Regions from separate parts of the Homo sapiens genome. Here all the other regions are reported to be linked to region 1. The links are microRNA targets in miRTarBase. Many come from high-throughput screens and were not tested one by one. Region 1 holds a microRNA gene; each other region holds the end of a gene's coding sequence.

Region 1 (8,085 bases):
CACTCCCTGCCCTGCCCACTCCTGAAGCTTCCCTCACTTGGAAAAGTTGGCCAGGTTCTGGATGACCTTGGCAATGAGGGTGAGGGTTCGTGAGGTCTGCTCATCTGGGTACTCCTGCATAAGCCCAAAGAGACTGGGCGACATAATCGCTGGGCAGAGGAAGCGCAGGAAGAGTGAGGCGCTGATAAGCCTGTCTGCGATGTCCTCCCGGCCTCGCTCTGCGCAGCGCAGCCGCCACGAAGCAAACACCTCCTTCAGCTCCCTCGGGAACACGCTGGGGGGAAGGGTCGGGGAGACAGAGAGAGAGAGAGAGAAAGAGAGAGACCGGGACTGAGCCCCAGAGACCCTCAGCTTCCAGGGAACATGCTGAGGGGGGTGGTAGGAGGTGAGGGTGTGGAAACAGGGGTGAGAGAGACAGGGAAGGAGGGACCGCAGGAGCAAGATGGGAGGCTGCTTGAAGAAGGGGGCCATGGCAGAGGGAACAGACAGATTAGGGAGAGAGAAATGGAGGGGGAGAGAAGGTGAGGGGAGAGACACGTGGGAGAGAGATGGAGGGGTGTGGGAGAGAGACAAGGAGAGGAGGAGAAGAAAAACAGACACCAGGGAGAGACAGAGATGGGAGAGAGATGGAGGGTCACTTGAGGTACAGGGAGCTCGGACCCCCCAACTCTTCTGGATTCCAGGGAAATGGGGATGGAGGTGCCCCAGGCATGATCCCCAGTCCCTGGAATGGCTCAGAGCTCACTCCCCGCACCTCCCAGTTCCACTTCAATGTCCCACTGACACCTTAAACTCGGCTGGTGTAAAGCAGAGCTCACCATCGCCCCCACACCTCCAACTGGCTCCTCCTCCTGACTTTCCTGGTTGTCAATGAGGCCACCGGTCTCCCAACCACCAGCCTCATGGCCTCTTGAGTCATCCGTGACTCCCCACAGACATGCTCCCTCCTTTCCAATAAGCTGACAATTCCTACTGATCCTTTCCCGAGAGGGTCCTTCCAGTAGCTCCTTCCTAACTTCTGTCACTGTTCTGATTCAGGATCTGACTTTCATGCCTCCGAGCCCCCAGCTGGCTCTATTCCAGTCATCCCCCAACATACATCCCTCTACTCTACTACATACACTCTACTTATGGATTAATTTTTTTTTTTTGAGATGGAGTTTCACTCTTGTTGCCCAGGCTAGAGTGCAATCGTGTGATCTCGGCTCACTACAACCTCCACCTCCCAGATTCAAGTGATTCTCCTGCCTTAGCCTCCCGAATAGCTGGGATTACAGGCATGTGCCACCACATCTGGCTAATTTTGTATTTTTAGTAGAGACAGGGTTTCTCCATGTTGGTCAGCCTGGTCTCAAACTCCTGACCTCAGGTGGTCTGCCCGCCTCAGCCTCCCAAAGTGCTGGTATTACAGGTGTGAGCCACCGTGCCCAGCCTATGGATTAATCTTCTAAATCACAATATTTCTGACACCTTTAATGGCATCCCAAGGCCTACCAATGACCTCAGACTCCTTGAGGCCTTCCAGTTTCTAAAGCTAATCTTCCTGCCCAGACATCTCTCCCGCCACTCCCCATTATGAGGCACATGCTCCACTAAACCTGATGTAATTGCTACTAACCTACTTTAATGTCCCCTGAAAACTCCTGGGCCTTTTCACCATCACACATGTGCCTTTCTCACAGCCTTCTTCTGAAATGTCTTTCTTGCCAACTATGTCCATATATCAGAACCTAAACCAGTCTTCAAAGCCTACCCAAGGGGGCACCTCTTCCCCACTTATCTCAAAGCTCTGCCTTCTCTCTGACCTTATGTCACACAGAGGTTGGGGGGACCCTTACTCAGCACTTACACACCATTATGGCTCTGTGGCTTTTTTTTTTTTTCTTCTAATTTGTCCCCATTCTGGTGGAGGCCCTCTGAGGGCAGGGACCAGGCCTCTTTCACCTGTTTGCTCTATAGCGCCTAGAACAATGCTTTGCCCATAAATGGTGCTCAGTCCTCTTTGAGGATGGACAGATAGATGAACAGATGAACACATAATTCCCCCGACCCTGGCCCCCCAGCCCAGCGTTCCCAGTCTCACCAGTGGGAGTTGACCACCTTGCACAGGGCCAACTCACAGCACATTCGCAGGTTGGCCTGGTGCTCTGCCAAACTGGATGCTGTGCACTTGATAGGGTCTACCTCGCAGTTTTCCTCAGATTCATACAGAGCACGGATGAATTCTCCTGGGGGGTGGGGGCACAAGAGGGTGTGGTCACACTTTCCAAGGGCAGGGAAGGGGGTGGCCAGGGTTGGGGAAATTTCAGAATCAGGTGTTGGAGGCTGGAGTCCTAGGACTCTGGGTTAGGAAGTATCAAGCTGTGGAAGGGTGGACTTGGGGTCTGGGGTGGACATCTGGCAGGTTTGGGAAGAAGAGGGCCTGAGTGTGGGCCATACCAATGGCATCCTTGAGGTATTTCTGACCAATCAGTCTCATATACTCTTCTATGGCTTTAGTGGCAAGCGTGTTCTCGCGGAATATGAGGTGCTCCCGTTCCATGAACCGGTCTACCTCAGACATGGCCATGTCTGAAAGGAAGTCCTGAGGCCCAGGAAAATCCAAGTGTCAGCCTCTGCACAACCCAATCTCGTGAATTTGCCCTGTCCTCACTAACCCCCAAGCAAGTGCCCATTCCCAAGTCACCTTTCCCTGAGGGCACAACACTCACCTTGGCCTTGCCTGTACTCTGCAGGATGTGAACTAGTGCACTGGCAACCTCCTCCTTGCCTTTGACATTCAGGGCGGGCTCCAAGACTGCACACAGCATCCGATAATGGTTGGTGACATACTCTGCAAACTCTTTATATAGCTCCATGGGCAAGATGCTCATTGTCTGGTAACGTGCTTTCAGCCGCACAGCCGGGCAACCTCCTTTGCCCTTGCCCCCTGAGCCACCCCCCGAGCCCCCTCCCCCTCCCGAACCCATGCCCCCAGATCCCCCACTGCCTGTTGGCAGGGTTACAGGGTACCACTGCTCTGTGAAGTGGCGCCCAGCCAGGGTGGCCACTGGCACAGTCACCAGGCCGACATAGCCTGCCTTGTCCTTCTTGCGCTTTTTGTCTGAGTCACGGTACAGATGCAGCCGCAGGGCACGGACAGCCGGCAGGTTGTTAAACTCGAAGTGCTCGCCCCAGAAGACGGTGTCCCCAGAGGCAGAGCGGGGCTTGGAGGTGGTGCGTGCATACAGCATGTCATCCAGGCAGAGCTCACAGTAGTACCGCTTCTTGGGGGGCAGCTCCCGGGCCTCTATGATCCACAGCTTTAGCACATTGTCTACCCGGCGGCTGTTGTCCTGGCATGGTGGGGTGGGCATGATGTTAAAGGGGGAAGGGACAGAGAGACACCAAAAGAGGAGAGACAGTAAGAAAGTGGGATACAGACAGCAATCATAAGGTGAGACGGTGTACTGGGTTGAATAGTATCCCACCAAAACTCATGTCTACCCTGAACCTGTGAATGTGATCTTATTTGGAAACAGGATCCCTGCAAATGTAATCAAACTAAGAAGAGGCCAGCCATGGTATCTCATTCCTGTAATCCCAGCACTTTGGGAGGCCGAGGTGGGTGGATTGCCTGAGGTCAGGAGTTCGAGCCAGCCTGGCCAACATAGTGAAACCCCGTCTCTAATAAAAATACAAAAACAAATTAGCTGGGCATAGTGGCACGTGCCTGTAATCCCAGCTACTCAGGAGGCTGAGGCAGGAGAATCACTTGAACCTGGAAGGCGGAGGTTGCAGTGAGCTGAGCTCATGCCATTGCACTCCAAGCCTGGGAAACAAGAGCGATATTCCATCTCAAAAAAAAGAGGCCATACTGAATTAGAGTGGACCCTTAACCCACCTTATAAAAACTGGTGTCTTTATATGGAGAGGGAGATTTGGAGACACAGAGATACAGGATACAGAGACACACAGAAGGAAGCCAGCTACATGAAGATGGAGGCAGAAATTAGACGGATGCAGTTATAAGCCCAGGAATGCCAAGGACTGCTGGCAACCTCCGGAAGCTAGGAAGAGGCAAGGAAGGATTCCCTGCTACAGCATCAAAGAGAGCGTGGCCCTGCTGATACCTTGCTTTTGGACTTCCAGCCTCCTGAACTGTGAGAGAATAAATTTCTGTTGTTTTACGTGACCCAGTTTGTAGCAGTTTGTTATAGCAGCCCCAGGAAGCTACTGTAGAAGCGTAGACATACACTAGACAACACAAACAGTATTGGAAAGATTTCAAAAGCTGGAATAACAAGCCAAAAATATTAATGTAGAATTTGAAGGGAACTGGAAAGTCCTGCAGAGACTATCAGAAATTGTGAAAAAAGAATTGCATATAGAATGGGTAAAGCTTGGCCAGATGTGGTGGCTCATGCCTGTAATCCTAGCACTTTGGGAGGCTGAGGCAGGCAGACAACCTGAGGTCAGGAGTTTGAGACTAGCCTGGCCAACATGGTGAAACCTCGTCTCTACTAAAAATACAAAAATTAGTCGGGTGTGGTGGTGCATGCCTGTAATCCCAGCTACTGGGGAGGCTGAGGCACAGGAATTGCTTAAACCCAGGAGGCGGAGGTTGCAGTGAGCCAAGATCACGCCACTGCACTCCAGCCTGGGTGACAGAGTGAGACTCTGTCTCAAAAAAAAAAAAAAAAGAATCAGTAAGGGCCTGGGGGGATACAATTGAGCACAAGCTAATGGTAAGGCTCAGGTGATATTGCAGTGTGTTGAAAGGGAACATGGTGTTTGTACTCTGCATAGGTCAGATCATGTCAGCATCTTGGGTTGAGTTCTTTAAGGACATCAAGACACAAGAGTTCCCCCCAGAGGAGTGTGACTAGGACTGTAAGCTTGCTAGAAACTGGGATACAGAGAATAGCTGACAGAACTGGAAGCATGAAGTTTTGGGAAGAACAGACTCATAGAATTTATGTGCCAAAGGGACCTTAGAGATCATTTAATCCAACCCATTGCCACCAGTTCCCTCTGTCTTAGAGAGGAAACCAAGGTACAGAAACTTGGCTAAGTGTATTTGATGTGTCCTGCGGGGTATTAGTGAAGCATTCCTGCCTGCAGGGAAGCTAGACTAAAGAATTTCCAGAGCCCCATCAACTCTGTAAGTCTATGACTTCTATGGCAGGGAAAGAGATCGTAAGGCAGGGTAGCAGTACAGAAAGCGAAAAGAAATGGGGGACTCAGAATAATGGGGGTCTCCCCCTGCTTGTCCAGATACACTGTACCTCAATCCTCTCCTTCCCCAAGCCTCTCCTCCTTTAACTCACTTTCCTCCCTAGGCCCCCAGCTTCCCGTGTTGGTGCAACCTTTGCCCTGCACAGGTTGTGTCCCCTTTATTCCCCAATACCTTGTTGGGCTTTACTGCCCGCTGCAGATTCTCAATCCATTTGTCTCTTTCGGCCGCAGACCGACAGGCAAAGCATTTTGTTCCTGATGAAGTTGTTACCTAGAAAGGAGTGTGGAGTTGAGGGAAAGGGCTACAGAGGGGAGGAGACTCTGCTACCTTCTCTTCCTCCCTGGCCTACCCTTTCCTCCAGTCCCAGAAGTTTCTGTTTCCTTGATGTCCCCACCTGTGCCACTTTCTCTAGACCTCTCTGCCCCCCACCTTCCATCACCCCTGTCCTTTGGCCCTCCCCAGCCCACCAGACCCAGTACCTCAAAACAGAACTCCTGGCCCAGGATGGAGCTGTGCACTGGCTTGATAATGGAATCTTCATCCAAGTTGAGCTCCAATGCCTCAGCTGCACTGCTAGGACTCAGCAAGGACTCATGAGAGTGTGACTCCTTAAAGCTTTGCATCAGCCGGGCCCTGGCAGGCAGGAGGTTCAGGAGAGGAAGGGATCAGGGCTTCCCACTCTTCCTTTTTTTTTTTTTTTTTTTTTTTTGAGACAGTCTTGCTCTGTCGCCCAGGCTGGAGTACAGTGGTGTGATCTCGGCTTGCTGCAACTTCTGCCTCCTGGGCTCAAGCGTCTCTCCTGCCTCAGCACACCCAGCTAATTTTTTTTTCTTTTTTTTTTTTGTATTTTTAGCTGAGACGGGGTTTCACCCTGTTGGTCAGGCTGGTCTCAAACTCCTGACCTCAAGTGATTCAGCCTCCCAAAGTGCTGGGATTACAGGCATGAGCCACCGCGCCCGGCCCCCCTACTCTTCTTAGACACATAGGTACCCTGCATCATCAGTCTGTTCCAGGATGGAGACTTGGAGAGAAGGCCCCCTGAACACCCTTCCCAAACAGACACAGAAAGAAACCCTGCCTATCAGGAAGGACGTGAGGGATGTGAGAAAAATCAGAATCCTTTAAGGAACTCCCCTGCTCCACCTGGGCCTGGTGGCTCACACCTGTAATCCCAACATTTCAAAGGCCGAGGTGGGAGGGTCACTTGAGCCCAGGAGTTCAAGACCAGTCTGGGCAACACAGTGAGACCCTATTTCTATTTAAAAAAAAAAAAAGGAAAAAAAAGAAACTCCCACCATCTCACACCTAAGGGATTGCGAGGACTGGGGACATCTAGAAATATCTCAACCCAGAAATGGACCATGGCAGAAAAGAAAAAAAAAAAAGGAGAGAACAAAGTGGGCCTGGGGCACTTCTAGGTAGTACCTCCAGGTAACCCCAGAAACCAGAGCCTCAGTATAAAGGAAAAAGTGGAAGTAAAGAAGTGAAGGCACAGAGAAGAGATATGTCTAGCCTGGGCCTGGCACACGGCTAGTGCCTGATAAACATTTAATGATTCAAAGAATGAATGAACACAGCATAAGAGGACAAGTTTTAGCAGAAGCAGGGGAAAGAGTGAGGGAAAAGCATAAGAAATAGGAGAAAGCTGTGGGCAGAAAAGAGCTCAAAGAGGATAAAAGACAGAATACACGGACTAGGGAAGAAGAGGAGGTAGGGCAAGAAGAAGAAAGGGGGAGACAAAGGTATGTGCAGCAAGACAGAGGACAGGAGAAGAGGAGGAAGGCCAACTGGAGAGATGGCCGGGAGAACCGAGGTGAGGGCTAAGAGGGGATGGAATGCAAAAAAATCACTGCAGGAGGGCAGAAGATAAAGGGGGCTAGGGGCATGGAATAATGAGGGGTAGGATAGCAATACAAAAGCGGTATGGAGATGGGCAGGGGATGAAGAGTAGAGAGCAGTGGGAAAGCGGGAGGGGAGCTTGGGTGTGGGAGCCTCCAAGAAGTTATTTATAGCAGCCCCGTCATCGCAGGCTCTGGCTGCCGTCAGCGCGACGCTCCCCCGGCCCCCGGACCCCCCCCCCCGCCCCCGCGGCCAGGAATACCATGCCCTCACCCCCTGCCGGCCCCAAATCCAGCTCTGGCAACATGGGAGGGGGGCAGGGAAAGGTGTGACTCACTTTATCCCAACCTCCCTACCTGCCCAATCCTGGGGGTGGCCAGACATGGGGGAAAGGGAGGGCATGGTTCTCCCTGGGGAGTGACTGGGTGAGGGGGAAACCCAGAGAGGAACCCCAAATGGCAGGCAACAAAGGCAAACAGTGGAGGTCTCCTTCAGCCTGGTCTCAGGGACAGTGCCTTCTGGACTTCTCCGCTGGCTGCTTCTTCATGCCTCAGTCCATGGGTTGCTTCCCATTCTGTCACCCTGCACACCTGTCCCAGCCTCCCCTTCTCTGCCATGCTCTATACTGTCTCTTCCCTCACTGATGAGGTCCTTGAGCCCTAGCCATCATCCATTCATTCAGCCACCCCCAGCCCCACTCCAACCTGCTGCCCCTGTATTTCCTGACCTTCCCTGACACCCTTCCACCTACAGCCTATTGCTCACTCACCTACCAACCCCTTCCCTGCATTCCTTAAACATTCCTCCAGGGTCACTCTCCTCCTGTACAGCTCCTTTGATCCTGGGCTAGAGCCCATCCTTCTTGGCCTGAGGAGTCCCTGAGGAGTCCCTCCTTGGCTTCACCTTCATTCCCTTTCCAGCCTGTCTGTCTGTCTTCTCTCTGCCACCCTACCCCTCTCCTGCTGCTCACAGATCCCTATTCTAGTTCTTTTCTGTTCTGTCCCCTGTGCCATGACATCCCCCAACCA
Region 2 (8,085 bases), not on the chromosome of region 1:
ATTGTCTGTGTCTTGCTCATTTTGGTGATGTTATTGCCAGTGAGTAAGATTAAAATTTAGTCTTGCAGTTTTAAGTAAATATAGTAAAATATTTTCCAGGTTAAAATAAAATGGCTAAAATGTTAATGATGCGATTTTAAAACCTGTACATTTCAATTTTCAGGTTTTAACTTCCATTCATGTTTACACCATTAATTGGAAAAACATTTCATGATTTCTCTATCTTTGTTTTAGCCAAAGTCATACACTGGCTATCAGAAAATTATGCTGGAAGAATTGCAGTGGAAAAACTGAACAGAAGGAAGCAGAAGGTGCTGAGTGGTTACACTTTGCAAGCTGTGGTGAAGATCACACTGTGAAGATACACAGAGTCAATAAATGTGCACTGTAATGGACTTAATAACTACATGCTTGCAGTCACTGGTATCTTAAAATATTATCATGTAAACAGGTCATCTTTACCTTCATAACTGAATTGAGTTTCTGGGTTTTTTTTTTTTTTGAGATGGAGTCTTGCTTTGTCACAACCTCCACCTCCCAGGTTCAAGCGATTCTCTTTCTTCAGCCTCCTGAGTAGCTGGGACTAGAGGCACACCACCAATTCCGGCTAATTTTTGTATTTTTAGTAGAGACTGGGTTTCACCGTTGGCCAGGCGGGTCTCAAACTCCTCGTCTCAGGTGATCTGCTTGCCTCGGCCTCCCAAAGTGCTGGGATTACAGGCGTGAGCCACTGCGCCCAGCCTGAGTTTCATTTTTTAAGTCACATAGCAGTAGTCCTTATTTCAGTGCTAGACCCTTTGAAATGCGATGAAAGCTATATGGACCCTTCGCTTTGTTATATAACATATGCACACATACCCAGAATTTTGCACATATGTTCAGAGATTCCTAGACCTGCAGACCTGCCTCTGTGTGTCCCAATTTAAGAACCTCTGTTCTTTCTTCATGACTGGATTTGCCCAATTTTGTGTTATTTTGGGACTTAATTTGTCCCTCTTTGGGACATTTCCTTATTTATTGCCCTCTTCAGAGAGTAGATGTAGAAAATAAAGAGAGGAAACCTAGATTACTTAATTTTATTTTAACATTTTCTATAGATAGCATACCACGCCAAGTGTGCTCTGTCTTGATCCCCTTCTTTCTAGCATCTGCCAGACATTGTAGAGTTTCGCAAGCAGTTGTAGGTTTGAGCTGCAGCCAGTCATTTCTTTTATTCTTTAAAAGTACATAGATTTGTCTTTTTAGGGCTTTACTGAAAGTAAAATATCCTGACATTTAAACTGACAGATGTAGGAGGTAAAAAATAGAGTTCTGAAACATTTGAATTTATGTGACAGCTGAAGTCACGAGATGAGGGATATATGTCCCCCAGGGAGGATGCAGAAAGAAGAAAAGGGTACTGGAAACAGCATGTCAGTGGTGCCAGCTGAGGGCTGGAGGCAGCCAGGAGAGTTGGGAGCCTGGGTGCTGGGTGGAGAGAGGTTAACAGGGAAGACATGGGAAGTATTGTGAAGGCTGGTGTGAGCAGGGGACTACTCCAGCCCTGTTGGAACATAGAGCCATTTGGCAGATTGACAATGCAGTGACAGCTGTATATAATAAATGTGTTGAAAGGAGGAAGGTGAGGATTTTCTTGGTGGGAGTTTATGCTGTTATTTAACATATTTTGCTTCCAAAGGGGTTAAGATGTTTTACCTAAATGGAGGTTTCTAGGTCAGTGCTATACAATATTTCTAATCTGTGTTTTATAGTGTGAGCTACATATGTAATTTTAAAATTTTCAAGTAGCCACATAATAAAGGAAACAGGTGAAATTTAATGACATATTTCCTTTAATACGGTATATCCAAAATATTATTATGTCAACCTATAATCAGTATAAAAACCTGTTACTGAAATATTTTATAGGGCCCATCTCAGTTCAGACTAGCCACATTTAAGTGCTTCATAGCCACATGTGGCTCATGGCCATCCATATTTGGACAATGTACTTTAGACTATTGCATCTGTATACTCTTGTGCCGTCAGCTGGGGGGTGGGGTGTGTGTGCGTGTATACCAAGGCAGTGAGCATCTGAGCTTTGAACCTCAAAGACCAAAATGCCCTGCCCATTTTCCTGCTTATCAGCTGAGGAATCTTTACCCACATTGACACATGGGCTTGTTCTGACCCAAGTGCATGCAGGCTTCCAGAGCAGATTCAGAGGCCTAACTTAGTCCTTTAGCTTTCCTCCCAGCACAGAACTCCCAAGGTTATCTGCAAGTAGGCCTTGCCTAGAGAGACTGAGTTTTCAAGTTGTCAGTTTTCCCAAATTGTCCTCAAGCATCTTCCTCTGGAATCACCTTACTGTTTAGTAAACATTCAGAGGACTTGCTACACATCTGGGCAGTCTGCATTGTAATTCATATGTGTTTACACATTTGTGTCTTCATCTGCTAAAGCACCTTTGAACCATATTGTAATTCATAATATCTGAAGCAATTATTATGAATTGTAGTAATTCATAATATTGAAGCGATTCATAATATCTGAAGCAATCCCCAGATACGGGTTAGGCATGGCCCTGCTCTGAGCAGGATGGCAAAAGTGGCAGTCCGTGACGCAGCCCTTGTTACCCCAGGCTATTACTAAATGGTGGTGGTGGTTTTATCTTAATTAAAATGACATCACCAACAATGGGCCCTTTCCTGTCTGCCAGGAAAAGTTTTCTGTAGTGACGCACGTGTTGTGTGTGTATGTGTGCGTTTGAGGCTATATTACTCATTGCTACGGCAGTTCAAAATGACTTGGAAAAAAACAATGAACGCTGGTCATTGATATGTATACTGACATGTTTGAGGGAAGTTACTGTGGTCTGTAACTTATGAAATACATAAAAAATATGATGGGTGGAGTGACGGACACATGGACAGATATGAAGCAAGCACTGTAAAATATTAGTGGTAGTTTTTGTATGCCCATACTCACGGCACCATTATTCACAGTAGCTAAGAGATGGAAGCAATATGTGCCCATCAGTGGGTGAATGATCAACAAAATGTGGTATATTCATACAGTGGAATATTATTCAGCCTCTAAAAGGAAGATACGCTGACATGTGCTGCAACATGGATGAATCTTGAGGACATGATGCTAAGTGAAGTAAGCCAGTCACTGGAAGACAAATACTCTATGCTTCCATTTATGTGAAGTATCTAGAGCAGTCAAATGCATAGAAACAAGTAGAATGGTAGTTGCCAAGGACTGGGGGAGGAGGAAATGAGGAGTTGTTTAATGGGTATAGTGTTTCAGTTTTGCAAGATAAAAAGTCCTGTGGATTGGTTGCACAGTTAAGTTATGTGAATGCTGTATGCCAACTCAACTGTACACTCTAAAATGGTTAAGATGGTAAATCTTATCTTTATTTTACCACAGTTTTTTTTAAAGCATGGTAAACACCATTTCCCAGGATGTAAATCGGTACTAAAAAAAAAGTGCTCCAAAGTAAGATATATTTGGGAAACACAGGGATAACTAAGGTTAGATAGGTGTTCTTTATTGCAGGAATTCTAAGAGCATTTAACAAATTAATTTACACTGGGAATTTTCAGTGTGGAGGGTCTGGCTCATAGCATTTCACAAACATTATACTTCAGAGTCCCAAAGCCTTTAAATAAAATGTTAATGGTAGAAACTCCTTAAGGGGTGTTCACTGTACAATTCTTTCAACTTTTCTGCATGCTGGGAGTTTTTTTGGTAACAACGTGTTGGGGAAAATGGCCTTGGAATATTTCATTCAAATTGGAGCCAAGCTAACACAAAGCTGTTGCTGCTAGTGGGAACAGCCCTGATGTCCATGTAACAAGCTGCCCTCCCCAACTCCCTCCTTCCTGTTTCTCCCTCCTCGGCACCCACTTCTAGGATTAACAGGCAGGGAGACGGGAGAGCCCAGCTCTGGGTACAGTTGGGCCACAGCAGAAGGAGGGCCAGGGTAGAGGTTTGGGCCTTGGCTCTGATGCTTGAACATAAACACACCTAGTCAGAAGTACATCAGTACAAAGTGGGCCCTACAAAATTATAGGGTCAGAAAACAGGTAAGTGGTTACCAGGGGCTGGGAATGGGGAGAGGAGTGACTACAGAGGGACCTAGATTCTTCAACAAATACATTACAAGAGGAAAAGGGAAGGGAAGGGAAGCCTGGAGATTGAAAGATACTTGAGACGTGTGAATCCAGTGCAATGTATGAACCTTGTTTGCCTCTTGATCTGAACTAGCCAATCAATCTTGTAAAAATGTGCTTAAGGGACAAAGCAAATTTGAACTCTGGCTGGATATTTGATGATATTAAGGAAACAACATTTAAACATATGACAGTGGGGCTATGGTTATGATTGGTTTTGTTTTTTTTTTCTCTAGAGACTGGGTTTTGCAGTGTTACCTAAGCTGGTCTTGAACTCCTGGGCTCAAGCAGTTCTCCCACCTCAGCCTTGGTTTAAGAAAAAAAAAAAAAAAGTTCTCTTGAATCATAATTTCAGTATTTATGGATGAAATCAATTTATGTCTTGGGTTGTTTCATAATGATTGTGTGTGTGTCAAGGACTAGATGGGTTTTAGATGTGTGGATTATTAATGAAGCTGGGCAGTGTTGGGGTGGTCATACTATTCTAATTTTTTAATATACTTAAAATTTCCTTATAAGAATTGTTTAGAAAGAATGAGCATATCCATAAGTTAAATACAAAAATTGTTACATTGTGAGGAGTTCTTCCCCTTCTAGCATGTAGTGGATGGTCCAGTATTAAGGCTCTGCCATGCTTAAACAAGAGACTGGCACTCCAAGGACAATGAGGCTGAGGCCAGAAGAGAGACAGCGTGTTGGATGGCTGCATGTGGTTGGTGGATAGAGGACTCTGAGCCCCACTCTGGTGGACTCAGAGATCTGGGACCCGGGCCGGGCGTGGTGGCTCATGCCTGTAATCCCAGCAATTTGGGAGGCTGAGGCGGGTGGATCACTTGAGGTCAGGAGTTCGAGACCAGCCTGGCCAACATGGTGAAACCCCATCTCTACTAAAAATACAAAAAAAAAAAAAAAATTAGTCGGGCATGGTGGTGGGCGCCTGTAATCCCAGATGTTCCAGAGGCTGAGGCAGGAGAACCGCTTGAACCCAGGAGGAGGAGGAGGTTGCAGTGGGCCGAGATCGAGCCACTGCACTCCAGCCTGGGCAACAGAGTGAGACTCCATCTCAAAAAAAAAAAAAAAAAAAAAAAAAATCTGGGACCCAGTACTGAGTGAAGACACCAGAGTGAAGGAGAGAGGCCATGCTGTGTCCGAGAAGCTCCTACTGGGGTGGAAGGGACAGCTCCACAAAGGCTGCTCTTGCAGGGGCTCTCCTGCAGCAAGGTGCCTGCTGACTGTCCCCAGACTGTCTCCCGACACAGAGGGATGCAAAGGCAGCCTCTTCCTGCTCAGTGGAATAGGGAAATTATATCACCTTTCACTTCCCACTCTCACTTCTGCCCCTGCTACCCTTAGTCTTTGGCTTTTGCTGACATTTTCCCCTCTTATCTTTTCTCCTGACCAAGTTCTAGGTATTTCATAGGGCAGTCTAGGTGAGGGTTGGAACCCCAATGAGTTGGGCAACAGAAACCCAGCTCACACTGGCTGTCACTGTGGGCAAGCTGTTCCCCTCATCTCTAAAAGTGGAGATGAGATTAGTGTATGAGTCTGGCTTCCATTCAACTGTGTGTGAAAAAAAATTGTAAAATTTTCTTTCTGGTTTACGCAAGTTAAAAGTTTATTTCTCTCATATGAAAGGAGTCAAGGCAGACAGACCAGGATGGGGAGGGAGATGTCTACAGGGTCAAGGACCCAGGCTCTTATTTCGCTGTCTGACGTCCTTAGTATGAGGCTTTCACCTTCCAGGATGGCTGCTTGGCCTCCTGCCATGGTCTTTGCGTTCCAGCCAGCAAAGAGGAAGAAGGCATGAAGAAAGGCCTGCCCCTGACTTTAAAAACATTTCTTGGAAGTCCCATACTATTTTGCTTAATCTCCTCGGGCAGAATTTAGTGTTGTGGCCATACCGAGCTTCAGGAGAAGCTGGGAAATTAAATCTTTATTGCAGATGCCCATGTGCTCAGCAGAGAACTGGGGTGCTTCATTCTGGAAGAAAGGGAGAACAACAGTAACCAGTGTGTAGGATTGTTCTGAGAATTAAATGAGCCAATATATGAAAAACACTAGTTTGGTCCCTGGGATATAAATAAGACAGCAGTAATTTGTATCTGGTACTATTATGATTAAATAAAGCTCTGCTCGTGTCAACTCCATAGAGCCTTTGGTAAACCCCTCAAGTATTCTTTTTTGTTTTTCCTCTGAATTCCGGAGTATTTTATTCCAGTTTTGTTTTATGGCACTTGTCACCTTATATCTTCTATTTTTGTGTATGTTTTATGCTGTGTCAGGTAGATGCCTTCTATTGTAAGGAAGTTCATCTCAAACACAAAGGAATTACTGGCTCATATGACTGAGAAAAATTCAGTGGTGGGATAGGCTTCAGGTGCAGTTTGATATGGGCTCTGCCTTCCTTTCTCTAGTTTGCTTAGCTCTGCCCTTTCCATGGCAGCCTTCTTCTTTTGTTATTATTTGAGACTGAGTTTCACTCTTGTTGCCCAGGCTGGAGTGCAGTGGCGTGATCTCGGCTCACTGCAACCTCCAACTCCTGGGTTCAAGTGATTCTCCTGCCTCAGCCCCCTGAATAGCTGGGATTACAGGCACATGCCAACACTCCTGGCTAATTTTTGTATTTTTAGTAGAGACGGGGTTTCACCATGTTGGCCAGGCTAGTCCTGAACTCCTGACCTCAGGTGATCCACCCACCTCAGCTTCCCAAAGTGCTGGGATTACAGGCATGAGCCACTGGGCCTGGCCCGTTATTATTTTTAATAGAGGCAGGGCCTTACTATGTTGCCCAAGCTGGTCTCAAACTCCTGGGCTCAAGCCATCCTCCTGTCTTGGCCTCCCGAAGTGCTGGGATTACAGGCATGAGCCACTGGGCCTGGCCCGTTATTATTTTTAATAGAGACAGGGCCTTACTATGTTGCCCAAGCTGGTCTCAAACTCCTGGGCTCAAGCCATCCTCCTGTCTTGGCCTCCCGAAGTGCTGGGATTATAGGGGTGGGCCACCATGCCTGGCCACATGGCAGCTTTCCCCTGAGGCCGTTCTCCCTCATTGCCGTAAGAGGAATGCAAACAGCCCCTACATTACTTTTTTCCTTGTTAGTATCAAAGGAAATAACTCTTAGCATTAAGTCTCTAACTTTACTCTGACTGGACCATTCCTCAGCTAATCACAGTGGGCAGGGGAAAGCCGCATGTTAAGTGGCTTGGGCCTGCCCATCTGATGTAACAAGCTGTGAGATCACCTGTGCTGGCCTAGAGGCAGAGTAGGTCCCAGTGAGATCACATAGCTGCTCTAACGTGGGGTGGTTCTCCAAAGCAAAATCAGAGGGGCCAATGGATACAGGATGGGCAACCAATGCAAGCCCCCTATACGAACCTGCTAAAGCCTAAACACCTGCGCATCAGATGGTTTTCCTGTTGTCCACAGCATCCCTGAATTCAGCAAATATGTATTGCCACATATTTGCTGAATTCAGGGATGAATGAGTTTGATAATGCTGATGGCTGGTGGAGGAAGTATTCTCAAATGTAATCTGCCAGTCGGTAAATAGAATATCTGAGATTCCTGTCTTGGTGGTTAAAGGGGTAGGGGGCAAAGAGTAGGAGGGAGGTGCTAGCACAGAAGGGACCAAGAAGGGGCTGGCCTGGCCCAGTGGACCTGCTCATGAATGAACATGGGAGAAGCCGAGCCCCCAGGAAGACAGCGCCAGGAAGATTGCTGCTCTGGGCCCTTTGCCCTCTCAGTCCTGTGGTCTACCTAGTATTGGTGGGTTTGGTTGTTTCAAACATTAGATATAATGGAGCCTTGTTCCCAATCATTTCATGATGTTGAACTGCCCTTTTCATTTCTATTCACAGGAAAGGTCTTGTGTCACTCTAGGGGAGGGAGCTTCCTGGGGTTTCTGATCTTTCTTTCCACTGCTCT
Region 3 (8,085 bases), not on the chromosome of region 1:
CCCTGGGGGTCACGCCACTTGGAGTCCAGCTTTTCTACTTGCTAACTGTGTGACCTTGAATGGCTCCCTTAAATCTCCCTGAACCCCAGCTCCATTGTCTTTAAGATGAGAAAATAATCGTTCCTTCCTGGGAATGTTGTGAGTATTGAGTGAGGCAGTGCAGGTCAAGTGTCTATTAAACACTAGCCACAGTTGTATCGCTGTGTGGCAGAGCCAGTCTGACAAAATACATTCTCAGCTGTGTGGTCTAACGCTCAAATTCTGAACTCACATGAGCCTTGCAATTGCACCATGGGGACCACGTCCTCCCACCTTAGACTCAGTAGCATTTGATGATGGTGGGCATGTCATCACAGGAAACTCACTGTGTTTCCTTGGCTGTATGAATGAAGCTGTTGTTAGAGAATTAGTGATTCTAGGCTGGGCACAGTGGCTCACGCCTGTAATCCCAGCACTTTGGGAGGCTGAGGCAGGTGGATCATTTGAGGTCAGGAGTTCGAGACCAGCCTGGCCAACAAGGTAAAACCCTGTCTCTACTAAAAATACAAAATTAGCTGGGCTTGCCTGTAATCCCAGCTAATTAGGTAGGCTGCGGCAGGAGAATTGCTTGAACCCGGGAGACAGAGGTTGCAGTGAGCTGGGATCACGCCATTCCACTTCAGTCTTGGTGACAGAGTGAGACTTCGTCTCAAAAAAAAAAAGAGAGTTAATAATTCATTACAGAGTATCTCCTGCATGCCAGCAAGCTATGGACATCTGGAAGAAGCCACATGCCTTGCCCTCAAGTTGCTTAGGGTGGAAGGAAATGATTAGAAATGAGCCAAGCCGAGCCTGCACTCTTAGAGTAAGTGTAGTGGCCTCAGACAGAGGAGAGATCCCTGGGACCTGGGCAGTCTGAGCCTTCCACTGGACAGTCATGTGTGAGGAGATTGCATTTCCTGAGCAGGACACTGTGTTGCGTTACATTGGTAACCCCAATTTAAGGCAGCATAAATGCACTGGGAAAACAGCAATATTGGTTAGCCCTGGGAAGTGGTTTTTAGGATGATTATAATTTTTTTTTGTGGGTATTCATTTGATGTGGATAGCTGGGGTGAGTGCTGCTTTCCGTCTTCTGATGGGGGCCTGGAGAAGGCTGAACTGCATTTTTTAAGGTCTGTGACGCCTGCTGCAGGACCTGCAGTGGGAGAAAATTCCCCAGGGTGGGGCTTTCTCCCTATAAGGGTGCTCAGGGCTGAATATCAGGACCCAGAAGGCTGAAAGTGACTGTCCCTCCCTTAACGGATGTCTTCCTTGTTTCTGTGGCCAGGGAGATACTTCAGGGGATTACCGGAAGATTCTGCTGAAGATCTGTGGTGGCAATGACTGAACAGTGACTGGTGGCTCACTTCTGCCCACCTGCCGGCAACACCAGTGCCAGGAAAAGGCCAAAAGAATGTCTGTTTCTAACAAATCCACAAATAGCCCCGAGATTCACCGTCCTAGAGCTTAGGCCTGTCTTCCACCCCTCCTGACCCGTATAGTGTGCCACAGGACCTGGGTCGGTCTAGAACTCTCTCAGGATGCCTTTTCTACCCCATCCCTCACAGCCTCTTGCTGCTAAAATAGATGTTTCATTTTTCTGACTCATGCAATCATTCCCCTTTGCCTGTGGCTAAGACTTGGCTTCATTTCGTCATGTAATTGTATATTTTTATTTGGAGGCATATTTTCTTTTCTTACAGTCATTGCCAGACAGAGGCATACAAGTCTGTTTGCTGCATACACATTTCTGGTGAGGGCGACTGGGTGGGTGAAGCACCGTGTCCTCGCTGAGGAGAGAAAGGGAGGCGTGCCTGAGAAGGTAGCCTGTGCATCTGGTGAGTGTGTCACGAGCTTTGTTACTGCCAAACTCACTCCTTTTTAGAAAAAACAAAAAAAAAGGGCCAGAAAGTCATTCCTTCCATCTTCCTTGCAGAAACCACGAGAACAAAGCCAGTTCCCTGTCAGTGACAGGGCTTCTTGTAATTTGTGGTATGTGCCTTAAACCTGAATGTCTGTAGCCAAAACTTGTTTCCACATTAAGAGTCAGCCAGCTCTGGAATGGTCTGGAAATGTCTTCCTGGTACCAACTTGTTTTCTTCTGCTTGATTCTGCCCTGTGGCTCAGAGGTCTGGCCTTATCAGCCAGTGAAAGTTCATGTAACCTTACGTAGAGATTTGTGTGCAGGAAACCCTGAGCATACACTAGTTTGCAGGGACTCGTAAGGACATGGGAAGGGAGGTTCCCGAAATCCAGGCAGGAGGCCCAGACACCTGAAAGGCAAAGGGATCTTGGTTGGTTGCAGGTGCAGTGAAGTCCACTGAAGGTGTGGTGCGAAGAATGCAGTCCTTCACCCAGGTCCCAGGAGGGAAGAAGGGTGTGTGCTAATTCCTGGTGCCCCTCGGCGGGGGCCAGAGAGAAGGATGGGGACAACCCAGAGAGTCACAAGACCAGTGCCTCCCCTCAGGGTGCCTCCAGGCTGAAAGGGGCTCCTGGCTCTGGTCTCTGGGGACCCTGTGCCCGTTGGTTGGTGGTGTGAGGGAAGAGAATCCATAAGAGAGTTTCTGAGAATTATGGTGTCATGTCCAGAAGCTAGAGCTTACCTTGCATCAGGGGTCTCCACCCACTCCTTTTCCAACCTCCTGCGTTGAGGTTTAGAAAAGAGAGAATCGACTAGGCACTATGGCTCACGCCTGTAATCCAAGGACTTTGGGAAGCTGAGGTGAGAGGATCACTTGAGCTCAGGAGTTCAAGACTAGCCTAGCCAACAGCGAGACCCCTGTCTCTACTAAAAAATTTGGCCAGGCGTGGTGGCTCACGGCTGTAATCCCAGCACTTTGGGAGGTGAGGCGGGCAGATCACCTGAGGTCAGGAGTTCGAGACCCAGCCTGGCCAACATGGTGAAACCCCATCTCTACTAAAAATACAAAAATTAGCCAGGCATGGTGGCACATTCCTGTAATCCCAGCTACACAGGATGCTGAGGCAGGAGAATCACTTGAACCCAGGAGGCAGAGGTTGTAGTGAGCTGAGATCACACCATTGCACTTCAACCTGGGTGGACAGAGTGAGACTCTGTCTCAAAAAAAAAAAAAAATTTACCTGGCATTGTAGTGCATTCCCTATAGTCGGCTACTCTGGAGGCTGAGGCAGGAAGATCCTTAGAGCCCAAGAAATTGAGGCCGTAGTAAGCTGTGATTACACCACTGCACTCCAGCCTGGACAACAGAGCGAGACCTTGTCTCAAATGAGAAAAAAACAAAAAGAAATGGGAGAATCCAGAGAGACTAGGCTAGATCAAGCCTGCTGGGTCCTGGCAGGAGCCCCAGGGAGTAGCTCATCTGCAGACATTTGCTTGAGGACTACCCCCTAAACATAAAGGAAGAATGACATCCGAAGGGTGTGGAGCAGCCATGAGCTGAGAACTAGCCTGGTCTACCTGAGATTGATGGCAGGTCCTGGTCAACACGTCAGCTCTGCGTCAGAGTCCATGCCTCAAGCCCAAGCTGAAGCCCCATCCCTGCTGCTCTCCCAAGAACTCCTCTGCTAGGGCAGGCCCCTTGCCCTTGGGTGCCAGGTGGGACCTGCCTGATGGGATGGGGTGCTTGGCATATACAACTTGCCATGAACTCAAGGTGACCCTGGGGGCCTCCTGAATTGTGATGGGGCCTAGAACCAATGTGCTCTGATGTGACCATATTCTGTGACATTACCTTGCCCTGTTTACTCCAAAGTTCCCAGCCTGGTGCCCAGCAGGCAATATTGCACCTACAGACACATTTACTTTGGTTTCCAAAGTGTTTTTAGACATTTGAATTTGTTGCCAACATTTAAACATTGAGAGATTTCATATTTTTAAAAATCTGGAATTCTGGCTTCTCTTGAAAACTCAGAAATTCTGGCACTATGGGGCTTGCATTCCTGCATGGCTGGAGCTGAGTTGCAGCTGCCCCTTTAGGCCTGTACTCCTTATTTGCTATAGGCTCCGTCTTGTATTACACTAAGCCCATGTCACCCATTTGGCTCCTGCAGGCCTTTGGGTTTGAGACCCTGGTCTACACACTTGGAGACCACCTGTTGTAAAGTACATGGATGTGCTTTGGTCAAGGAATAGACCAAGGTGGATATCCAGGCCAGAGTGACTCAGCGAGTTTAGGTCACAGGCGTATACTCCACTTGTTATATAACCTGCTTGTGTAAGTTCATACTTGGCTCAAAGCCACTATTGTTTGGAAAAGGTATAACTGCCCTGCTGACGCTGTACAGATGTTCTTGGGCTCGGATGGGCATGGCTCCACGTGGTGTGCACTAGCACCCAGAGAGAGTGAAGCTATTGACCCCTGTAAGGGAGAGTGACCATCTGGCAGATAGATAGAGGGGAGCCAGGACATGGCTCAGCTTGTGCCCAGAGGGAGAGTTAAGCCGCTGACCCTGTAGCCAGGGAGTGCACCTGCAAGCATGGGGGTGGCAGGAGCCACAGAGCTGGCTGCTGAGAGGAGCTGCAGATCTGGAGAAGACAGCCTAGGTAAAGGTGGACAGTGTGAGAGCTGCTGATGAGATAGCTGCTGAATAAAACTACATTTTACCTGCCTATGGCCCGCCAGGTTTTCTTTCAGCTATCGCCCATCCACCCAGTCCCCTCGAACCTCAGCATGGGCTGGAACCTGACCCTGGGCATGACATTTGGCATAGTTGTGGACCTGACACCTGTGTTTGTCCTAGTCCTGTTTCTCCCTGCCTTCCTGTTCCTCTCGCTGCCCTCATGGTCACTCCCAAGAGATCCAACCCATGTTAAGTATGGGCTGGAGGACTGCATGAATGCCTCATGATCTTCCCAGAGGCAAAGGCACCTACTGCCTTCCAAGGTCAGTGGGAGGTTGGGATCAACACTGTTTATTATGCTTAGGACAAAAAAGATAGGGAGAAAGATGTGCAACCTTACAGGTCATCTTTCTGGGATAGAACACAATGGGTCTTCTCCTGCCTCCTGGATATGTTAGTCAAGGCCAGTCCATGCTACACATCTAGTCTGACTTCTAAAATAGAAGCACCAGATGAATTCAGCCCTGAGAGAATTTTCAGCAGCTGTGGGGGCGCTGGAGGAAACACTATTAAATAGTTTTGCACCTGAGACAGATAGCCTCACTCGCCTCACCCTAGTCCTGGTGGCATTTGTCTCAGGTGCAAAATTTAAGAAAGAAACCTTGGAGTGCTCACCCTGTGGCTGGGTAGATGGTCCTAAAGTGGTGGTTTTCAAGCCTGAGTGTGTATCAGGATCATCAGGGGAGCTTGCTAAAGAGCAGTTCCTGCGGTCAGACCCTCATGCATTTTGAGCAGGTGTGGGGACTGGGAAACTGCATCTGTAACCTGCTGTAATCTAACGCTTATCTAAATACTACTGTGCTCACACAGAGAACACCGCAAAAGTAGAGGTGTTCCTCCAGAGGGCAGGTGAGCAGATGGCACAGTCTGCTTGGAATTCAGTCAGGTGATGAGAGATGAGATGAGGCACTCCTAGCTTTGGGAAGAGGGAGCTGAAAGATGAACCTTTGCAGGTGCCCACGGTCAAAGTGGTGGTTTAATGCCATGCCATGCCCATTTTCTGTTGGCCTTGGCAGGGAGTTACAGCCCTACCTTAGGACCTGGCTCCTTATTTCTGCTGTAGGCTCTTTCCTGCCCTGGCCGAGATGGAGTGGAATGAGACCTAGAAACATCAAGCTAAATACATGTCCTCAGAAAGATAAAGGTTTACATTTTCACCCCCATCAAATCTGAAAGCTCTCTGCCTGTGTTTTTCTAAGGGATAGGGACATCATTACTCAGTCCACAACCTGGACTCATGTAGGGTCCCCTGTCAGTAAAGGAGTCAGTCAAGCCCACCAGGTATACCAAGGACTCTTACCCTCAGCCCCTACTCCTTGGAAAGCTGCCCCTTGGCCTAATATTGGTGTTTAGCTTGAGCCTGACTCCTTCTCAACACTAAGAGCTGATGAAGTCCTGAAGCAGAAAGAGCTCTGACCTGAGAGTCAAACATCCTTATTCTGATCTCAGCTCAGCCCCTGATTTGTTGTGTGACCCTGGATATGTCACTTCCTGTCTTTTTGACTTTTTAAAATGAAGGGTAGACTAGAGGAGAGCTTCTAAAACTTTAATGTGGTCAACGAAATGGAATAGGAAATTCCACAAGTCTGTCCTTCCACAAAAGCAGCAAATAAGGTGGCAAAAACTCAAATTTATGGGAACTCTGGAAACGAATTGAAAGTTTACAGCAATCAGGTGAATACCTAAGAATAAAAGCTGGATTTAGTAAGAGAGCTTTGTTGTGTTTTAGCTTACCCTGGCCCCATCCCCCACTCCCCAGCATGGCAGCAGCATCAAAAACAATATCCCTCATTCCCTGTATAGGTTCCTGTCACTGGAGGTAGCAGATTAGACCTTATTTTCAAGAAGTATGTTGATTTTGATTTGATTTGTTGCTCCCTGAAGGACTGGTTCAAATGCCTTTCTTTTATTTTGCCTAATTTGGAGCTCTCCTAAAGTGAAGATGGCAGCCTGGAAAGACGTTTCAAGGTCAGTGTATTAGTGGCTCATGCCTAGGGGAAGGAATAACATTTGGAGCAAACAGGAGACAAATTGAAAAGCTTCAGGAGGAAAGGCTAGGAAATAAGATTCTTTGGGTGAGAATAAGGACTTTAAAGAGATTCCACATATTCCTGGGAATCTGAAAGACCATACACATGCCTAGGGCTGGGCATGTGCTTAAAAAGACTTGAGAGGGCCCTATGCTGTCACCTCTGCCTGACCTTCAGGCTCCGTGCAAGCAGGAAGTGAAGGCTAAGGCATAGTTATAAACTGCATGGGTGAAGGTTGAAAGGTGTGTCCCAACACAGAACACATCTGCAAATGCTACGAGGCATTTTGTTGTTCCAAGTGTTCAAAGAAATCTTTTGAATCACTAGCTGACCACTAAGCTAACCAAAGACTTAGTGGCCACACCTGACAAAGAATACAAACTAAAAAACTAAAAATGTAGTTCAAGAAAATAACAGGCTGGGCACAGTGGCTCACATCGGTAATCCCAGCACTTTGGGAGGCTGAGGCAGGTGGATCACTTGAACCCAGGACTTTGAGACCAGCCTGGGCAACATGGCAAAACCCCATCTCTGCAAAAAATACTAAAAATTTGCAGGGCCTGGTGGCACACACTTATAGTCCCAGCTGCCCAGGAGGCTGAGGTGGGAGGATCACCTGACCCTGGGAGGTCCAGGCTGTAGTGAGCCATAATCCTGCCATTGCACTCCAGCCTAGGTGACACAGTGGAGGAATAATTTTATTTCCAAACTTGCCACATTATAAATAATATTCAGAATGTTCAGTTTTCAACAAAAACTATGAGGTATGCGAAGAAACAAAGTATGGCTCATACATAGAAAAAAAATCTGTTAATAGAAACTGAGGAAAGCTCAGACATTGGACTTAACAGACAAGACTTTAAGTCAATTATTTTCAGAAAGGTCAAAGAACTAAAGGAAACCAGGAGAATGATGTCTCACCAATATTGGTAAAGAGACTGGAATTATAAAAAGGAACCAAATAGAAGTTCTGGAATTGAGAAGTACACAAATAAAAAATTCATTGGAAGGGTTCCAGAGCAGACTTAAAAAGGAAGAAGACAAAAATCAGCAAACTTCAAGATAGGTCAATTGAGATTACCCATTCTGAGGTGCAGAAAGAAAACAACAACAACAAAAAAGCTAACTGAGCCTAAGACACCTGCAGGACACCATCAAGTGTACCAACATACACCTAATAAGAATCAAGAGAAGAGTGAATGTAGAAGAAATTTTTAAAGAAACAATGGCTGAAAACATAATGAAAGACATTAATCTACACATACAAAAAGCTCAATGAATTGTAAGTAGGGTCAACTCAAAGAGACACTCAGTGTGACATTGAAACACATTATAATCATACTGTCCAAAAGCAAAGCAAATCCTGAAAGCAGAAAGAGCCACTGGACACGTACAAGAAATCTTCGATAAGATTAATAGCCAATTTCTCATC
Region 4 (7,414 bases), not on the chromosome of region 1:
GGGAGGGAGCTCTCCCCGCCCACCCCCAGGAGCCCCCGCCGCCGTCCAGCTCAGGTCCCTGTCCACTTGCGCGCCGCCGCCGCCGAAAACCCGCAGGCGTCGGGGCATGGGCAGCCAGGGGCTGGAGGGCGTCCCTGGGACGGCCTCCCTGCAGCTCCCCAAGATAGGTGACAGAGTGGGGCAGGCGGGGGCGCGGGACGGTGGCACGGAGCTGAAGGCGAAGGTGAAGGTGAAGCTGGACGGGGTGGGGCCAGAAGGGGTGGTGCCGACGGCCTCGGGCGGAGACCCCAGCCGCGCTCTGGGGTCGCCTGGGTCTGGGGCTTAGGCGGGGGGCCCACACTGGGGGCGGGGCCTATGGACTGTGAAGTCCGAGGTCGTCGGTAACTGGCGGGCGGGCGTCTTTTGCAGAGGCTGCCGTAGTAATCCACCCCAACGGCCGGAGGAGCCGCCGGAGCCCGCCTGCCCGCCCGCCGCCGAAGGAGAGGAGCCGCCTGCGCAGCCCCCGGGCCTTTGAGCTGCTCCCAGCGCTGGTCCAGAGCCGATCCTTGATCCGGGTCCCGGATCGTGGATCCGGCCGCCTAGGGCTCAGACTTGCGGCCCCGGGTTGGGAGGAAAACCCGTTCCGGAGCCGCCTGCTCCCGGAACCGGACGGCACAGGGCGTTCTTGCCCACCCCAGGGGCCAGGCTTGCGGAGGGGGAGCCCGCGGAGCGGCCAGACTCCCCGGGGCGCTCAGCCTCCGGCGAGGGTGGGAGACGGCTTTGTCCTGGGGACACTTTCCCTCTGGAATCTCAAGACGACGTGGCACACATTCCACGTGGGTGCTGCCGCCACCCCAGTCGGTCGTGGCGTGCAGCTGGGAGCCCTGGGCTTGGGGGTGGGGGTCGAAACAGTACTGGAAGAGGCGGAGGGCGGCTCCTAGCTCCGTGGACTAGGCGGGGGAGAAAGGAAGCCTTTCTGAGAGCGGGCTAGGCCGGCACTGGAGAGGCCGGAGCCTTTGGAACAAACCGTGCGGAACGCGTCCAGGGGCCTTCCCGCCCAGCCTTTGCCAGATCTCTCGTGCGGTTCGGGCAAAGCCGGGGTAGACCTGGGCTATGCTCAGTTAGGGGTTGCGGGATCCCCGAGTGTGGGCGGGACTGGGACACCCTTTGGCCTCTGTTTGTCCCCTTTCCAGTCCTCCACCCCACCCCTGGAGCCCAGCCTGGGAGCGCAAAACCCAAGAAGCGGCCAGAACGCACCTCCGGCTCCGGCGGACGCGCGACCGTTGTGCACCACCAGGGACCGCCGCGCCTACTCTGCACGGGAGCAGGGACAGCGCTAGATTTCGTGTACAAAACCTGTGTACCCCTCTATATATATGTTACATAGAATGTATATATGTTGGGAACATGCTCGCTTCTCCCGTGTGTCGCCGCCGTGCGTCGTGCGCCCGCAACAGAGCCCCAACCGGGCCTTTGCCGGGTAAGGGGCTACCGCGACGCCACTTGTCCACGCAGCCACCACCGGCCCGGGCCAGTCCCTGCCAGTCCGTCCGCCTGTCCGTCCGTGTCCTCAGCTCTGTCCACGCTTCGATAGGCCTGACGCAGCCCCCAGCCCAGGGCCGCCCTAGCAACTTCCTGTACATATGACTGTAAAATGGTAAACGTGTGTATTATATCTGGCCTCGTTATATAGTGTATATATATGTATACATATACATATATATAATATATATGAAGACTGTAAATGTTAAGACGACTAGTGTTCTTATTAGTATATTGCTTCACACTGAAGATTGTGTGTATCGAGCTGTTTCTAAAAGATGTTTATTTTCCTTAAGAGTAAAAAACAGTCATTGCATTCAGAAAAAAAAAAAAAAAAAAGTCAATAAAGATACAACGATTGTTTTGGAAAATCTGCAGCCCGTGGATTCCGACCAGATTCAGCTGGGAGCCGGGCCAGGCTTTAGGTTGGGGAATGGGAATGAAGGGAGGGGCTGGGGGGGGGGGCATGAATGGAGTCAGGGAGTCGGCCTTTCACAGAACAGGAAACCTCCCCCGCCCCTGTGCCCCCTCTCCAGTGTGGCGGCAGGTCGGGAGGGAGGAGGCTTCTTTGCTGTGAGATGACCAGGGGCCGGGATGGGGGAGGTGAGACGTGCCAGACTTCTTGCAGGGAGACCCAAGCTGTAGCTCCTGTCACACAACAGGTCCTGGAAGTCAGTCCATCCTCCCGTGCCACCCAGGGACCTGATGGGGACAGAGCTGGGAGGTGAGAAGGGACAACTGACCCCATGGAGGCCCTAAGGGTTGACACAGCCCAACCATGTGCCCTGGGAGCAGGGGGAACAGGTAGGCTGGAGGCCATACAGCCAGCCCTCCCCACTCCTCCCACTAACAAACAAACATCGGGAAGAGCTAAGTTAAAAGTTGTGTACCTTGTGGCCGGAGGGGGAGGGGAAGCCTTTCCCTAGGTGCTGGGGGAGGGCCCAAGCACTCTCACTAGTCAGCACATCCATCAGCTGAAGACACAAAACCCAGATTATAAATAATTTCATTTTTAATTCTCTGTACAAAACTTCTCAATCTATGAAAATAAAGTTTGCAAAAGGCAAAGTAGCACAGGAGCCTCAGGTCAGGAGGCTAAGCACGCTGACCTACACTATGTACACGTCTCTCTCCCACGACGGAGAGAGAGGCCTCTGGGGCAGAGCCCTGCTTGCAGTCCGGGAAAGCCAAGTTGGCTTCCGTCAGCACAGGGAAATGTACCCCTCTCTTCCCTGTACACAGGAGGAAAAAAGCCACTAAGGTGCCTGCAGAGCAAGGAGGGGGGCCCCCCAAAATGGCTCGGCCCCTGCAGTGCCCCGATCGGCCACCAGAGGTCAGCACCATCATGGCCGCCGGTCTTAGGGTCAAGATCGCGCCCCTCGGGCCTTCCACCGCGAAGGCACACAGCAGCCGCAGGTCGAACTGTGGAGGCCAGAGTCTCTTGCACTGCCTTCGGCCTTCAAAGCTTCGACGCAGGACAGAAGCTGCACGGGACCAAAGTGGCTAGAGACAGGGGTGCTGAGGCCGGGGACACGGGGTCTAGCTGGAAGTGACAGTGGTCCCACCGCCCAGGCGCATGAGCATCTGCTGACAGTCGTGCAGCAGCCGGCGATCGCCAAGCTTCTCGAGTGTGCGCGCCGCCTCAGCCAGCATGCCCACGCGCTGCCCGGGCGCCGACAGGAAGCCGGGGGGCAGGTAGCAGGAGGCCAGCAGCAAGGCCTCCGCGTGCTCCCGCCGCGTGGGCCGCGGCTCCAGCTCCGCCACCGCGCCTGCGCACACGAGGATGTGTCAGGGATGGGTCTCAAGCTGGCCACGCCCCCGCGGGAGCCCTGCCCACACACAAGCCACGGCACCAGCCGCCTGTACCTGGCACACAGGTACCTGGCGGGGGCCTGGCGGGTTCCCCTCTCCCCACCCTAGTCTCAGCCCACACACAAAGTCCACAGACTGAGTCACGCACGTGCAGTCATGTATCCCACAAATGACAGTCACCCCACTGATTCCTTGTGAAAGGAATTGTCATCAGGTAACCATCAAGAAGATGCTTGGTCTTTTTTTTTTTTTGAGACAGGGACTCTCCCTGTCACTCAGGCTCACTGCGGCCTCCAACTCCTGGGCTCAAGCTGTCCTCCCAACTGAGCCTCCCAAAGTGCTAGGTGTGAGCCACTGCGCCAGGCCTGTCTGTCCCGTCTGACACACACACAGCCTCCCTTGGTATCACATCCCATGTGCGCCCTTCCCTGCTGAGCAGACAGCACATCCCTGGTCAGCAGCTGCCCCCTCACCTCCTTTGCCACCGGGGCCTGCCCGCCGCCTCAGACTGCGGTCGAGGAGCTGGTGTGTCCGTGTGGGGCTGGCCCCCGCCATCAGCCGGGCCGTGGCCTCATGTAGGAACACCTGGGGGCCAGGAGAGTGGAGGCTCAGGGCTCTCCATCTCCACCACTGCCTGACTCCCCGTCTTGAGGACAGGGCCATCGGGCACTCACCCTCCGCATGGCGGGCCGGAAGCTCTGTGCCAGCCGCCTCAGGCTGCTCAGGTCCCGTTGGAAGCCACGCAGCTCAAGGGCGGAAGCCTGGGGCCTGCTGCTGGTGCCCTGGGCTGCTGGGGCCGGGGCCGGGGGCTGCTGCTGCCGCCACAGGCTGGTGCGCACCACAAGAAGCAGGTCACACAGGAACAGCTGCACGGCCTGGGGGTGGCAGGCAGGGCAGGGGTCACCAGGGCTCCAGCTCTGGGAGGGGCAGGATGGGGGCCCGTGGTGCCAGGGGCCGGCTCCGGGCTGCACTGCCGAGGCACTGCACCCGCCTCACACACGTGCAATGCAACAGCAATGCACCGCGGGGCCGCCCGCCTCTCTCGGCCCCCACACCCGCCACCGGCCCGGGAGCAGCTGTCCAGCCCTCCTGATGCAGGGCCTCCAAAGGGATCCTACCACACCATCCACCCCCCTCCTCCCAGGGATGGGGAAACTGAGGCCAGATAGGGGCAACCCCTCTCCTCTGGACAGAAGCCTTAGCCAAAAAGCAGGGTCTGCTGGACCCCCTATCCTGTGCTGCTTGGGCTAACCCCATGGTCTTCTGCAGCCCCTGGGGGCTGGGGAGAGGAACCAGGGAATGGAAAGCTGAATCCCCCAGCCCTGCCAGGCCCCTGACCCCACCCCTCACCTTGTCAATGGAGCTGCTGGCTGGTGTGGTAGCCAGGCTGTCCTGCAGGTACCCACTGGCCTTCTCACAGATGGTCAGGCTGGCTGGACCAGACTCTGCCTTGGCACAGCCCAGCAGGGCCCGGGCAGCCTTGAAGGAGTGCAGAGCTGCCCTGGGCAGGGGTCTCCTGTTGGGACCAGGGCAGAAGAGTGCCAGTCAGACCAGTCCACAAGCCCTGGCTGAGTGCCCCCCACTTCCCTGGCTCGAGTTCCCTGAGGAAAAAAGGTGGTGACTCCTCCTGCACAGAACAAAGGCTGAGTGAGGCACAGTGCCCAGGGGATGAGGAAGGCTGAGCCCGGGACCAGGCAGGAGGAACCTGCCGTGCACTCACTCAGACTCCTGCAGCACCCGGGGCAGGTGCTCCACCAGCGGGCACAGCCGCTCAGCCGCCTCCTCATCCCGCCGCAGCCAGTGGATCACCACAGCTGTCAGAGAGGCCCACCACTTGGCCACCGGGTCTACGCCTGCAGAAGAGGGAGGGTCCCCTGAACCCTCAGTCACGCTGCACGGGGGAGCTGAGAAGGGAGCCAGGACAGGGGCCGGGGACTCACCGGTGGTGGTGGCCATGCTGGAACTGATGGAGAAGCTGTAGGCAGGAGCCCCCGCAGCATCAGAACAGCTGTTCAGCAGCTGCAGGTACCCGAGGGCATCCGAGAATTCCCTGTGGAAGGAGAGAGCTGGCTGTCGGAACAGATGGCAGGGGTCCTAGGAGGGTGCTCCCCACCTGCCCTCCAGAGTACAGCCTGGCCCCTGGCTCTGCAAAGTGCCACTGTCTCCTCCCACAGGCTGGTGGGGAGAGGAAACTCAGAGAGGAATGAAGCGTGCATGGCACGCACGGTAGCCCAGCTCTGGGCTCTCTCCACAGGGTTGAGGCCAGAGCTATTCTCAGAATCCCGCCGGAGGGGCCTTGCCTGGAGGAGGGCACAACGACACTTACTTGTCCCCATCAGCTGACCCAGGGCTGGGGTTGGGCTGGGTCACACAGTTCAGTGCTCGCTCTAAGAGATGTTCCCGGAATAGCTGAGTCACCTGGGCCAGGGGGTCCACTGTGGAGAGGAGGAGGTGAGTGGGGTGGGGAGCAGGGCCCCACCCTCCTCTCCAAGCTAAGGGCTTTTTCCTGGGTGGGCTGGGGCCACACCTAGGGCCACTGGGAAGTGCCGGCATGCCCCTGGGTGCAGCCCCTGCCAAGGACAGGGGAAAGCGGGTGGACATAACTATCACCAGCACCAGCCTTGGCCAGGAGACAACACTGAGGCCTGCCCTACACTGCTTCCAAAGGAAAACCGACTTGAGAAGATGCCATTGTTGGCTCCGCTTCCTTACTCCACAGCGGCACTGCCTGGGGTCACTTCTCCAATTAGCCATCTGCCCATCAATCCCTGCATGTGCTTCTGAAAGCCCCAATGGGAACGAGAGGCACCCAGGCCTTTCCCTTCCTGCAACCCCCACAGCAACAACCCATGGCAGGGAGAAGGACTGGGGTGGCCAGAGACAGCCAGAGATTCAGGCGACAAGGGACAGGACAGGAATGAGGATGAGGGACAGGAGAGGGGACAGGGAAGGGGTAAGAGAGCACCTGGGTTCCCGGCCAAGCTGTACAGGCTCTCCCATGGGGTACTGAGCACGGACCAGTCCCCATCCACGAAGAAACGGTGGCCCACGGGGTGGCAGAGCCACTGCATGGCAGGAGGCACTGAGCCACTCTGTGCCAGGCAGGCCTGGCGGGCACTGCTCAGGAAGAAGCGCTGTAGGGGAGGGTACTGGGCTGTCACAGTGGACACAGCCTGGGGCCAGACCCCGGGCCGAGTCCCAGCTTGGCCTGGAGTCCCCCTGGTAACCACTGCCACATCCCGTGTAGCTCTTACCCAGGGAGCCTCTGGAGAGAGCTGCAGGGATAAGCCCCCAGCCCCCCAACCCACTCACTGTCAGAAAATGCAAGGCCCGTGGGAGACTGGTCTTCACTCTCAATGCAGCCGCCACATAGATCTCGGCCAGCGTCGCCACAGACACGGCATCCCCTGCACACTCTGCCAGGTTCAGGGCACTCAGCGCCAGGTTGGTGGCAGTGAGGTGCCCGCCTGTGTGCTTCCCTGGAAGGCAAGCAGGCATGAGGCTGTGGGTGGAGCACAGGCAGCAGGGAGCACCTCGGAGCCCGCCCCACGCTCAGTCCTACCCATGGTGTGCAGCTGGTGCAGCTTATGGTAGACCAGGGCTGCGTCTCGGGCGCTGGCGCTAGCATCCACTCGCAGAGCACAGTCCTGCTGCAGGCCCCCTGCCCGGCCTGCCAGCCAGCGGCCCACCCAGAGACGCTGCAGCAGGTGACGGATGAGGTTCCAGAGGAGGCTACAAGCCAGGTCCAGGTGGGAGGTGGGCAGGGGCCGGCCCAGTGCCCGCAGGGCCAGCCACAGCTGCTGGGCAGCCTGGGCAAAGTCTCCCTGTGGATGAGGGTTTTCCAGGTGAGAAAAGTGAGGTCAGAGCAGCTGCCCCAAAGCTCAGAAGAGCCGTCCACAGCAGGCTCTGGAGGGGTGGTGGGGGTCTGCGGATGCGTGGCTAGGCACAGGGAGGACGGGACAGATTCATGGTGTGCACAGGGAGCAGGAACAAGGGTTGACACCCAGCACCTTCACAGCCTGGGGTCCCTGCCCTGCCCACTCTGCCGGGGCCAGCCCCTTACCCGGGCCAGGTCCAGGTC

What was found. The annotated mature microRNA hsa-miR-5004-5p reads UGAGGACAGGGCAAAUUCACGA and lies in region 1 at 2,631-2,652, opposite strand. An mRNA with a match to its seed (bases 2 to 7 or 8) in the 3' UTR can be bound and repressed. Matches are read on the target gene's strand: a 7mer-m8 pairs with bases 2 to 8, a 7mer-A1 pairs with bases 2 to 7 and ends in A, and an 8mer does both.
Region 2: the mRNA of ELP2 is a reported target of hsa-miR-5004-5p. Seed matches in the 3' UTR shown: 8mer at 2,314-2,321.
Region 3: the mRNA of ANXA11 is a reported target of hsa-miR-5004-5p. Seed matches in the 3' UTR shown: 7mer-m8 at 1,804-1,810 and 8mer at 5,749-5,756.
Region 4: miRTarBase lists RAI1 as a target of hsa-miR-5004-5p. Seed matches in the 3' UTR shown: 8mer at 1,545-1,552.

Annotation. Positions count from the first base shown.
Region 1 is chr6:33,432,918-33,441,002 of GRCh38, reverse strand. It overlaps MIR5004 (microRNA 5004), which reads right to left and starts at 2,672; the gene lies at 2,566-2,672. It overlaps SYNGAP1 (synaptic Ras GTPase activating protein 1), which reads right to left. Exons shown (of 19, transcript NM_006772.3): 6 at 5,698-5,851; 7 at 5,390-5,488; 8 at 2,712-3,335; 9 at 2,440-2,584; 10 at 2,084-2,228; 11 at 38-274. SYNGAP1-AS1 (SYNGAP1 antisense RNA 1) reads left to right here. Exons shown (of 3, transcript NR_174954.1): 3 at 3,522-3,640. RefSeq lists a silencer at 2,973-3,150.
Region 2 is chr18:36,174,251-36,182,335 of GRCh38, forward strand. It overlaps ELP2 (elongator acetyltransferase complex subunit 2), which reads left to right. Exons shown (of 22, transcript NM_018255.4): 22 at 235-6,307. The coding sequence ends at 391. It overlaps COSMOC (cell fate and sterol metabolism associated divergent transcript of MOCOS), which reads right to left. Exons shown (of 2, transcript NR_134605.1): 2 at 5,751-6,140. Among named protein-coding and RNA genes, the nearest start is that of COSMOC, 9.1 kb to the right of the region's middle.
Region 3 is chr10:80,149,137-80,157,221 of GRCh38, reverse strand. ANXA11 (annexin A11) reads left to right here. Exons shown (of 16, transcript NM_145868.2): 16 at 1,310-6,333. The coding sequence ends at 1,369. Among named protein-coding and RNA genes, the nearest start is that of PLAC9, 20 kb to the right of the region's middle.
Region 4 is chr17:17,809,562-17,816,975 of GRCh38, forward strand. It overlaps RAI1 (retinoic acid induced 1), which reads left to right. Exons shown (of 6, transcript NM_030665.4): 6 at 409-1,892. The coding sequence ends at 420. SREBF1 (sterol regulatory element binding transcription factor 1) reads right to left here. Exons shown (of 19, transcript NM_004176.5): 9 at 7,397-7,414; 10 at 6,896-7,157; 11 at 6,646-6,812; 12 at 6,299-6,467; 13 at 5,660-5,768; 14 at 5,274-5,383; 15 at 5,054-5,186; 16 at 4,684-4,849; 17 at 4,008-4,208; 18 at 3,807-3,918; 19 at 1,773-3,290. The coding sequence ends at 3,061. It overlaps MIR6777 (microRNA 6777), which reads right to left and starts at 3,984; the gene lies at 3,919-3,984. MIR33B (microRNA 33b) reads right to left here and starts at 4,370; the gene lies at 4,275-4,370. RefSeq lists an enhancer at 3,196-3,754.